Linked DNA regions of Homo sapiens: region 1 is linked to region 2. Evidence: fine-mapped expression QTL. Tissue or cell type: whole blood. Region 2 holds a variant in brackets; the other region holds the start of a gene. All regions are shown on one strand. Distances are from middle to middle.

Evidence for each region. PIP is the estimated chance that this variant, and not a neighbour inherited with it, causes the effect.
Region 1: it holds the start of PDZK1IP1, and the variant in region 2 is fine-mapped to the expression of PDZK1IP1 in whole blood (TOPMed, PIP above 0.99).

What each region holds. Positions count from the first base shown.
Region 1 is chr1:47,187,881-47,193,285 of GRCh38, forward strand. PDZK1IP1 (PDZK1 interacting protein 1) reads right to left here and starts at 2,156. Exons shown (of 4, transcript NM_005764.4): 1 at 1,986-2,156. The coding sequence starts at 2,052. RefSeq lists a silencer at 2,437-2,731 and an enhancer at 3,561-4,510.
Region 2 is chr1:47,512,373-47,518,364 of GRCh38, forward strand. No RefSeq gene overlaps it. Among named protein-coding and RNA genes, the nearest start is that of FOXD2, 77 kb to the left of the region's middle. The variant T/C (reference allele first, on the strand shown) is at 2,629.

The DNA of each region.
Region 1 (5,405 bases), 320 kb before region 2:
CTAGAAGATCCTGTTCTGTAGCAAGACGTTTCTCTGATGGTAGGAAGGGTATGAGAGTGGGAGACTCTCAGGGCTGCTCAGCTGGGGAGATCTGGGGTGCCTGGGGTACCCAGAGAGAGGAGTGGACCAGGACATCTTTAGAAGGGCAGAATGGAGGGGTGAACTCTACTCTGGGTCTTGGGGACCAGGAAAGAAGCCTCAAAACCTGAGCTCCTTTTGATTCCCCCAGCTGGGTGCCCAGGGACTAGGGCCAGAGATTAGGTTGAGGCCCCAACCTGCACCCTTCTCTACTTTTTTTATTTTTTAATAGAGACAGGGTCTTACTACGTTGCCCAGGCTGGTCTCAAACTCCTGGGCTCAGGCGAGCCTCTGGCCTTGGCCTCCCAAAGTGCTGGGATTACAGGCATGAGCTACTGCACCAGGTCCCTTCTCTGCTTTTTGACCCTTGACACCAACACAGTCCCTCAAGATTTTCCTGAAGTCCCTGCCTTCAGGCCTCTGCTTCCCCAAAGGACTTTCCTCTTCCCCAGCATCACTGCACTCCATGAGCCTGCAGGAGCTCAGCCTTGTAGAGAAAAGACCCTCAGCGGGGAGAAGTCCCAGGACAAAACACAGGTCAGCAGGGGGCTTCAGAGGGGTCCTGCCTCCAGGCCAGAATATACCTGCATCCCTATATTTTGAGGGACCCAAGCTGGACATGAGAAAACCTTCCTCTGGCTCACTCCTGCTCAAATGTCCTCCTTTGAGTCTACCAAAAGCTCTCCTGCTGCAGTGGAGGCCTGACCTCTTCTCCGAGCCTGGCAAATATTGGGAAGGAGGAAGGAGGCTAGGAACTCTCTGGCCTGTAGTGAGGTCAGACCTCACTTATCTCCAGGGGAAGCAGAAGACACACAGTGTGATTACCCTCAGTTCCACACCTGCCAAAAAGCAGTATTTGGGAGTCATTGTTTCCCTAGGGGTTCAGACTGCTCCCTCAGGTCAGTGGTTGCTCAAGCATGGGGAGTTAGGGCTCAACCCTTGGAGGCCCCTCCCTGTTTCCTCCTAGACCCTGCAGCCAATTCTCTCCAGTCACCCCAGGGACCACAGTCCCTGCTCCTCCTCCCATGCACATACAGCAAGGGGCAGTGTCTGGGGCAGGAGAAAGGTGGTCTGAACCCTGTCCTTTCTTGCCGTGCTCTGTGACTCAACCTCTCTGGTCTGCAGTTCCCCAGAGGGCTTCCAAGACCTGGGAGACAGAGTTGAAGCAGACACACATAAGAGCTCGGGGTGGGGGTGGGAGGGGAGCTCTGAAAGCATCTTTGCCAGTCCCCTCTGGACCAAGTCCCACCTGCAGAGTCCCCAGACTTTGGCTGCAGATGCAGCCTGACAGTGTAGAATGAAAGCCAGACCTTGGGTTAGTTACTTCACCAGGTGCAAAGCCCTTCTTCACCTCTGACCTGGCAGCAGCCCTGGGAGGTGGGCAGGGTGGGGTTTATTGTTCTCATTTTATAGGTGAGAAAACTGAGTCTCAGGAAGGGGCAGTGATTTGCTCAAGGTCACACATCCATTCAGGCAGAGCAGGACGAAGAGGTCAGATATTTGGGGGAGTCACACTGGGCACTGTTCTCTATCCAAGCCCAAGAGGCCGAGACAAAGCCCAAGTCTTTGAGGGGTGGCTTGGGCCCCACTCTCACCCTACTTGTACCCCCGGGTCCCCTGTACTCAGGACCCAGCCATCCCTTGGGCAATGCCTGCTCTTGGGGCTTGGGCCTCAAATCCTGTTCCTCCCTGAGATCCTAGAACCAACTGCTGCCAGTTTTCACTCGTTGAAAACAAGTGACAGGCAGAGACTTGGTTCAGAGGTCTCTGCCTTGGGACATTCTTTCAGCTAGCGCAGTCCCTGCTCCCCCTCCAAACTGTAAGTATCAAGGCCCTGGGGAGGGGAGCCAGAACACCACCTGTCCACCCCTGGGTCTCCCGTGCCCAGCCCTCTCCTCCTGAGCTACCTTGCTGACAGCTGGCAGGTGGCACTGCCGTGAGCAGGCCCAGAATGAGGAGGCTGAGGGCCGACATGGCTGCAGCAGCTCCTAGCCTTGCTTCTGGCCGCCGGTGTCTGGGCTCCTGGAGCTGCTGTGGAGTCTATTGGTGTCCGCCTGAAATCAACCTGGGCTCAGTCTGGCCCTGGAGGAGAGGAGCTAGGAAGGAGGAAGGCGAGGGAGGGAGGAGACACGAAGACGGGCGTCGGAGAGAACGTGCCCTCCCTCCCATGGTAATGAGCTGCCAGACCTGGCCTCCCCTGGCTGGTGCCCAGCTCACTTGGGCTGGCATTCGAGGTCATCTTCCAGGGGCCAGCTAAGGAGGTGGGTATGAGGAACAAGCAGATGTGGGAGAGTCCCAGCCTCACCTCCATGCCCTGAGCTCCCTTTTCCTGGCAGTGGGGCTGGATTCTAGGGAAAGGGGTGACACACAGTCGCTCCTGCCTTGACTGAGCCCAGTGGGCGGGGCTTCTTGGAAGGCTGACAGTGGGATTAAGAAATGTCCTGGCTGGCTCAGGAGCCTGGGGAAAACCCCAGAAGCCCAGAGAAGGCTCAAAGCTGCCAGACTCCGCCGAGAGCCTGGCCTATTTCCTGTTCTCCCCACCACCTGCCCCTGCCCCGCCAAGCTAAACTCTGGGACTCTAATGCTGGGACACACTACGGCTTCAGTGCCTTCCACGCCCTGGCCCAGCCCAGTAGCTTCCTAAATCCACCCCCTTCTGCAAAGATCTCAATAGAGGGCCTGAAGGTCCCAGTCCCCAGCTTTCACAGCCCATGCCCAGGCCCTGACCCAGCACAGCTAACCTAGTCCCAGTTCGGTTCTTCCTCTTGGCCCCAGATGTGGTCCCTGGAAACCGGGCAGGGCCTCAAAACAAGATACAGCCTTGGTCAGAGGCTTCAACACCCAACTTCAGATCCATCTCCACCCATGGCAGAGGAGAAAATGGGCAAACACAGCCTGCTGTGGGGGACAAAGGACGGACACCCCAGATGGCAAGGTGCGATCTGGGGCCCTGAAGCCCTGGGCCCGTCACCCTCATAGCCAAAAGCAGCATTGAGGAAGGCACACCTAGCCCCTGGAACAGGGAGGCCCTGGAGCCAGAGCCCTCGGAAGAGGCAAAAGCCTCCCCAGGATCACGTGGTGTCCACCTGGCCCTCCAGCTCAGGGAATGAGAATGGCCAGAGTTCCTGTGCAAGCCCCTGACCAAGGGTCATGCTGGTCTCCTTGCCCCACCCCCCACCCCAGAAGTATGGGAAGCTGAGATGCTGACTCCCTAGAAAGGAGCGGGCCAACTGGAACAAAGTCTCATCAGAGATGGAAGGTCCCCAGGAGCCAGCACCTGAGCTGAAGGCACCTCCACAGCCTCTCTTCCCTGAAGCCACCAAACTCCTATTCATCAGGCCTCCTGGGCAACCCTTCCTATGGCAGGTTGATTCTGCCTTCCTGCTCCAGCGGGAGCACTCAGACATCATGCCTCAGGCCTGCTTCCTGTGTGTGTGTGTGTGTGTGTGTGTGTGTGTGTGTGTGTGTGTGTGTGTGGTGTGTGTGGGTGTGTGTGTGTGTGTTCACATGCGTGTGCAGTCGGGCCCATTGCCATCCAAAGATGGAGTGTCTCAAGGTGATCTGGGAGAACTTTGCTTGGAGTTGAGTGATGCCTCCCAAACATGTATATCCTGGCCTCCCTCCCACACCCAACTTGGTGTCCTCAGAATCTTCTAACACAGACTGGAGTAAGCACTGTGCATGTTAATGAACAGCCAGAGAATCACTGATTGGAATGTAAGGAATGGGGCTGAATTTAACAAACATCTACTGGTGCCTTCTCCAAGAATTTTAGGGAGGAGAGTCACATGGTTAGTTTTGCGTTTGGGAAAACACCTCTCCATGCAGTGTGGAGAGTGAAAGGGGCATGCAAAGGCTGGAGAAGAGAAATCCAGGGATCTGCTACAGTGGCCACAACACCAGTGCCTGGACCTGGGCAGGAAGTGCCCATGGGAACAGATCTGAGCCCTGTTGAGGAGGTAGAGAAGCCGGGGTGTGGCTGCTGGAACACAGTGCCAAGCTGGGAGAATGGGTACAGGCAGGAGGCAGGGCTTCAGGTGACTCCCAGGTTTCTGGCGTAGGCAGCTGGGTAGATGCTAGTGCCTCAGTAGGGGCCAGAGCAAGTTTGGGGGGTTGGAGGATTAATGAGCTATAGATTTTGAGGTATTATGCTTGCAGTGCCTGTGGACTTTCCAGAGGGAGACATCTGGAAGGCTGCAAAATCCCTGCATCTGGAGTGGAACATCTGGGAGCCGTCTGCAGCACAGGGATGGTAACTGAGGCCTGGGAGCTCATGGTCTCCCCAGTGTGTGTAGCGGGGGTAGGGGTGTTGAGGGGAGAGCACAGAAAGAAGGAGACACGCCCCCAACACACAAAGGTCTTTCAAAGGAAGAAGGGGCAGGAGGAAACAGGAGGAAGCAACCCCAGGAAAGTGGGGTATCCCAGGAGCCAAGCAAGGACAGACTTAAGGAGGGTGGGGGGGTCACAGCTGTGCCACCCCCTCCAACCAGTGCCCTCAGCACTCAAGTCCCAGGTTCTGCCTTCCCCACCCCAGTATCCTCCACTTCCCTGAAAAACCCAGGGAAAGGAAAGGATCCCCTGGGCTATGCTTTGGGAGTGGTGGGGGAAGGGGATGAACAGGAAGGACACCAGGTGATCAACAGGAGGAAAACATACCTCCTGGGTCAAAGTCCCAAGCTTTAGAGCAAAACAAGTTGTTCCAGAAAAGAGGGAGCATGGGTGGACACTTGGCTTTGAGGCTGGTCCCTCCTCCCTGGAGGTCTTCACACGGGTGGAGGGTCATCTCCCCAGCTGTATGGACACAGCCCTGATCCCCATGGTAACAAGGTGGGCCCCCCTACTGGTCTGGCTGGGGCCCAGGGTCTGGACTAAGGTCTCAGCAGCCCCACAGGGCTGCACCGTGTGTCCTGAGCAGCTGTTCCATCGACGTTCAGTTCCTCCTTCCTGTTCCAGCCCAGCTGTCACGCAAAACCATCAGGCCCCTTAGACAAGCCCTCCATCCAGCCAGACCTTATGCGATTGCCCTTCAGAAAAGCCAAAGTGGGCCTGGACTGTTTCCAGCAGTCTCCTTCCTCCCAACCCCATCTTGTCAGCCATTCCACTCACTGCCAGCAGGTGGCAGTGTCTAGCTCCAATACCAGACTGGGCGTGCAGGGAGCCAGTTTGCTGCTGAAGATTCTGCAACTTCCCCTCCCTCCAGCCCCCACTTTTGCCCTCCTCCAGGGGTGGTCTGAAGAAAGGGACGGTGGACATTGACATGTAAATAGTCTGGGAACAGCATACAGGGAGTGCTCAGGGCTCTGACATAGGGCAGCGTGGTGGACTAC
Region 2 (5,992 bases):
TCAGTGTCCAGTGAAAGGTTTAGGCTCTAAGTGCAATCAGGAGAGGGGGCCAGTGTGAGGTGGGCTGCTCAGGTTAGGCTTCCTTTGCATTATAGTCCTCATGGAACCAGCTGGTATCTTAAGACACAATCCTGTCTGGACCAGCATTGAAGTTTTGCACTGTGCTTAGTCTTGATTCCATTCATTCATTTGTTCAATGAGTACTTTTTGAGCACTATTACCTGTCAAATTCTTGGGTGGTGAATAACAGACAGATCCTTGTCCTTGCTAATCTTATCATCTAGTGTGGGAAATTAATACTAAACAAGTGCCTAATATAATTTCAGACACTGATAAGTGCTATTAAAAAAGAGCAGGAGAAGACAGCAGGAAGGAAGATGATATTTTAGACAAGAAGATCAGGAAGGTTTTTCTTAGGAGTTGACATTTGGTCAAGAATAAGAATTCCTGGGAATTCCTCGGACTGGGAATTCCTGGGAATTTCCACTGGAGAAAGGGAAGGAGATGAACAAGGGGACTGAAATGGTGGGAGGCTTGGGTCCTTAATTGGAGAGAGAGGGACGATACATCAGTAAGCAGGAGCTAAAGTTTTCTTTTGAAGAACTCTGCTCAAGGAATCAGCCCTTTGTGGTCTACAAAGGGCATTCACTTGGTTTATCTCACCTGTTAGGGCATTTTCCTCATTTTTGGTGAGGAATGGAAAAGAGACAGGGTGTAATTTAACTAAGGTCCCAGAGTGGGTCAGGGATTCAGGTCTCACATCTGCACCAGGGTGGACTCCAGCTCCTAGTGCACACCTGTCCACAAAACCTCCAGGTCTTGGGTAGGCTGTGTGTGGGAGGTTTCTCCACCCTGTCAGTCCTTTTCTGGAGGTGAAGGTGTATTGGGGTCTAGTTCTTGGAGACTCCTGATTTCTCTTTTTAACGTGTCAGACCCAGGGAGTAAAAAGTGAGCCTCAGAATCCCCAAAAAACCAGGATAGGGTGGAGCTCAGGAGAGGCAGAAGGCCAAGACAAAATGAGTGCCTTGCCTTTGGGGACAGAGGAGACAGATTTTATTCACTCAACCTAAAAACAAGAGCCGAATGGAAGTCGTCGTAGGCTGAGAGTCCAGACACCTGGCCTCCAGCCCTGGTCTCTGGATTGCTGTGTGCCATGGTTTGGATATGGTTTGTCCTTTCCAAAACTCACATTGAAATTTGATCCCAAATGTGGTGGTGTTGGGAGATGACTCCTAGGCAGGGAGGTGTTTGGGTCATGGGGGTGGATCTCTCATGAATGGCTTGGTGCTGTTCTCCCAATAGTGAGACCTAGGTTCTCTGCTCAGGGCCTCACCAGGCTGAAATCCAGGTGTTGGCTGGGGCTGCAATCTCATCTGAGGCTCATAAGTCCTCTTCCAAGCTTGTTTAGGTTGCTGGCAGGATTCCATTCTTTGTGGCTATAGGACTGAAGCCCTCATTTTCTTGCTGGCTGTTAACTGGGCAATTTCTCTCAGCTCCTGGAAGCTGACCTAAGGTCCTAGCAGCATGGTTCTCTCTCAACATGGCACTTACTTCTTCAAAGCCAGCAGGAGAATTTCTCTCCAGTCTATTATAATGGAGTCTTACATGGTGTAATGTAATCTATGCCATCACTTTACCATATAATGTAACCTAATCAAAGGAGTGTCTTTTCCATCATATTTTTAGATTTTGTACATGTTTTCAGGTGTGTACACTGTGGGTGGGATTCTTGGGGGAGAACTTAGAATTCTGCTTATCACAAAGGCCCAAACTTTAAGACACAGCAATTTCTCTTTTTGCCTTTTTGAGAGTCCTGAGCTACGATATAATAAGTCCTGCTACTCTGTTGGAGAAACCATATGGAGAGGCTAGGGGAGGGATGGAGGGAGGGAGATACTTGGGGAGGGAGAGACCTAGATGCCCTAGTATCCCAGCTGAGTCAAGCCTTCCAGCCATCCCCAACAAGGTGCCAGACATATGAGTGAGTCATCTTGGGTATTCCAGCACAATTGAGTCCCCTGAAGACTGCAGCCTCAGCTTACATGTAGGGCAGAAGAACCACCTAGCTGAGCCCAGTCAGCCCACTGAGAGAGTGCACTAAATTGTGCAAGAGGCTTTCACTGACTCCATCTGCCAAAAGTTTTTTGTTCTGGGAGGAAACATGGTTCTGCCCATTGTATTTCTCAGTGATGGGAAACCTGTCTCCTGCATGGACATTTCCAAAGCAGGGTCTCCACTGGGCCATGATTGAAAATCTATCTGGTCCCTAGGTTGGTCCTTTCCTAATGATCTTGAGAGGTGGCATGGCTGAATGGCAGAAAAATTCTGGACAGGGAAGCCAGGGACCTGGACTGTAGCACAAACTCTGCTGTTACCCTGCTGTGTGATCTTAGAACTACAGCTGTCACGTCTCTGGTGCTTTCCATGTGCCAGGCAGTGTTGTAAGTGCTTTATACATATTCACTCGTTCAAACCACATAATAACTCTAGGAAGTAGGTACAATTATTACCCAATTTTACAGATGAGAAAATGGAAGCATAGAGATATTGAATCACTTACCTAAAGTTACATAGCTAGGAAGCCATGGAATCCATCTCTTTCCTGGACACAATGGTCTGATCCTAAGA[T/C]TCTAGAATTTCATGGTTCTAGGAGTCTAAGATTCAACAATTTTTAAGGTTCTGGCAGCCTAAGATTCCATCAGTTTGAAGATCCTTGAATCCACAGATCATAAGCTTCTAGAATTCTCAGATTGCAGTTTGAAAAAGCAAATTCCTGCCATCTGCGAGGGTGGGGGTCAGGGGACATGATGGGGAATGACTCAGCTTGAGCCCTCGGCCTTGCTCAGCCCTCTGCTCCAGGAGTTAAAGATGTTGCCTACCCCTTTAGGCATTTGCTTCATTTATCTGAAACCCAAAACCTCTCTTGGAACTGGGAGCCCTGGGTGGTATGAAAGCAGGAGGGAGACCTCCTTGCCTGATAGGCCTGCAGCATCCACGGAGAGGGGCCAGAATAAGCAGTGAAACCAGGACTTGGAGTTCCCTGAGAATGATAACATTCTCTGTATCCCGCAGACCCCAAATAAACCCACGTTTTCCGCAGGCTCTGCTGAGGCCTGAGGAGAAAAGGGAAGGATGGTGGGAAATGGCTGATGTTTCCATAGGACCCACCACCCTGGGTGTTGTGTTTCTGTTGGAGAGGGGGCCACCTGGCTGGTGGCCCTAGAATAGCGGTACACTCCAGGACCACAGGGAGGCCATCCAAGCGGAAGCAGGGCTGGCCGGCTGTGTTGTATAGGCAAAGATAAGGAGCCAGGTCAGGGTTGACATGTGGAAGTGTTTAGGAGCCTGGGAGATTGGGCACTGCAGAATGACATATTCTGGAGGGACTAGGGGGCCCAGGGGTTACTGACTCCAGTGGCCTCATTCTATAGATGGTGAAACTGAGGGGAAGAGAGTTGTTGCCATGGTACATTTAACATGGGGTTCAATAAAATCTCTGGAATTGACCCCAATACAGTCAAACCCCTGTACTTCAGCTACACCAACTAGTGACCTTAACCCAAACTCTGGGCCTTTGCTTATGTTTTGCATGCTACCTGGAATGCAGTTCCACCCTGTTCTTTGCCTGTAGAAACACTTCTCTTGGAAGGTACAGCCCCAATACTACCTCCTCCAGGAAGCCTTCCTTCATCCCTTCCCCGTTTCTGATGTCCTCTCACCTGCTTCTAGGAGCACTGAGGGCATTTCATCTGCCCCTTCCTTTTGCTCTATGTCATATTCTCCTTCAGAGTAATTGATATGATTTGGCTCTGTGTCTCCATCCAGATCTCACCTTGAATTGTAATAATCCCCATGTGTCAAGGGCAGGACCAGGTGGAGATAAGCGAATTATGGGGGCGGTTTCCCCCATACTGTTCTCATGATAGTGAATTCTCATGAGATCTGATGGTTTTATAAGGGGCTTCCCCCTTTGCTTGGCACTCATTCCTTCTCCTGCCACCCTGTGAAGAGGTGCCTTCCACCATGATTGTAAGTTTCCTGAGGCCTCCCCAGCCATGCAGAACTGTGAGTCAATTAAAACCTCTTTTTTTTTTTTTTGAGATGGAGTCTCACTCTGTCACCTAGGCTGGAGTGCAGTGGTGCGATCTTGGCTCACTGCAACCTCCACCTCCTGGGTTCAAGCAGTTCTCCCACCTCAGCTTCCTGAGTAGCTGGGACTACAGGTGCCCTCCACCATGCCAAGCTAATTTTTGTACTTTTAGTAGAGATGGCGTTTCACCGTGTTGGCCAGGCTGGTCTCGAACTCCTGACCTCAAGTGATCCTCCCACCTCAGCCTCCCAAAGTGTTGGGATTATAGGCGTGAGCCACCATTTCTGGCCGCCTTTTTATTTTTCATCTACACATCAGTCCCCAAGCCCTCTACCATCAACCTTTTAATGGCAGGGCTGCTGTTTTCCTCATTGAGCTGTCCCAGAGTCTGGCTCAAAAGTGCTTAGTGAGAGCTGGATTAATGATGGCCTCTGAGGCTGTGTAAGGTGGAGTATTTTGAAGAATCCAGATAGTGAGTGTCCAGGGTGTTTCTGGTCCCTGTTCTATCTGAAGACTGCTTCCTGGAAGATGGGAGCTGAGCTAGCCCCTGGAAGATGGGATGAGAGGCTTGTTCAGCTGGAGTGGAGCACCAGAATGCTAAAGATTAGGAGCCATAAGCCACATGAGCCACAGCTGGAAAGGCACGAGAGGCAAGGGCAATCCACAGTGCAGTCTTGGTGGCAGAGTGAGGGAGATTCCCAGGGTAGCTCCGGAAGGAACTTCACTAGACCTCTCTCCTGGCCTCTCCCAGGGCTCTTGCCTCTGCTTTCAGTGACAAAGAGCTTACCACCTCACTAGAGGGTGATCCTGTGGTGTTTCCTGGAAGAGTACCTTGGGTAGAGGCATCTGGAGATGACAGAGGGGTAGGCGTGGGCTGGGGGGTCAGGGAAACTATTCTGGATGTGGAGGGGGATAATTAGCTCCTCAGTGCTGACTGGCTGGGTACCACGTGATAAGCACAGTGCTGGACAAAGAGTCACAGATTACCTTGTCTTCTGACCAATAGTGGGAGTCCTGGGTTACAGTTCTGAAGCTCACTTAAATGTGTAACATGTACACATAAAAGCCTAAGCTTTGGGATGAGACAGGTAGAGCACAAACCCCAGCCTCACCACCTACCACCAGGTTCCTTTACACAAATAATCTCTCCAAATTCAGTTTTCTTATGTGTAAAATGGGGATAAAGACCCCTATTTCTTGGGGGTGGGGTAGAATACGTGGGCCACAGGAGAGTTTGGAAAATGATGGCCATTCCCACAGTGGTATCTCACCTTTATCATCCTTACACATGTCGTCTCTCCAGCTGGGGATCTCAGGTTCTCTTATGGTTCCAACCACAGTCCATGTATCAACAACACAAACCTCAATCTGTCTCTAGATCTTTCTAGAGCTGTAGACTGGCTGTCCATCTGCCTCCTGGTCCGTCTCCTGGATTTGGGACCAGAAACCTGGGTTAGCTCCCATAGTTCCTTGATTCTTTGATTACAAGATTTGCAGGCCCATGCTTTCCTCTCTAGCCTTTCTGTCAACAGCTTCTCTCCCTTTTACCCCCTCCCATCTTACTCTGGCAACACAGAGCATTTCTCAGTCCCCTCAGTGTTGCTCCACTGGCCCTGCTACCTCTTAGCTTCTGCTCACACTCATGTATCTGCTTGGAACACCCTCCCCTCACTCTCTACCCAGCTACCTCTTACTTCTCCTTTCGGTTTAGATGTCACCTCCTGAGACTCAGATTGCCGTGGTCTAAATGTATGCATCCCTCCCACCCTCAAATTCATATGTTGAAACCTAACCTCCAAGGTGATGGCATTAAGTATTAAGAGGTGGGGCCTTTGGGAGGTAACTAGGTCATGAGGGCAGAGCCCTCATGAATGGGATTAGTGCCCTTATAAAAGAGGGTCC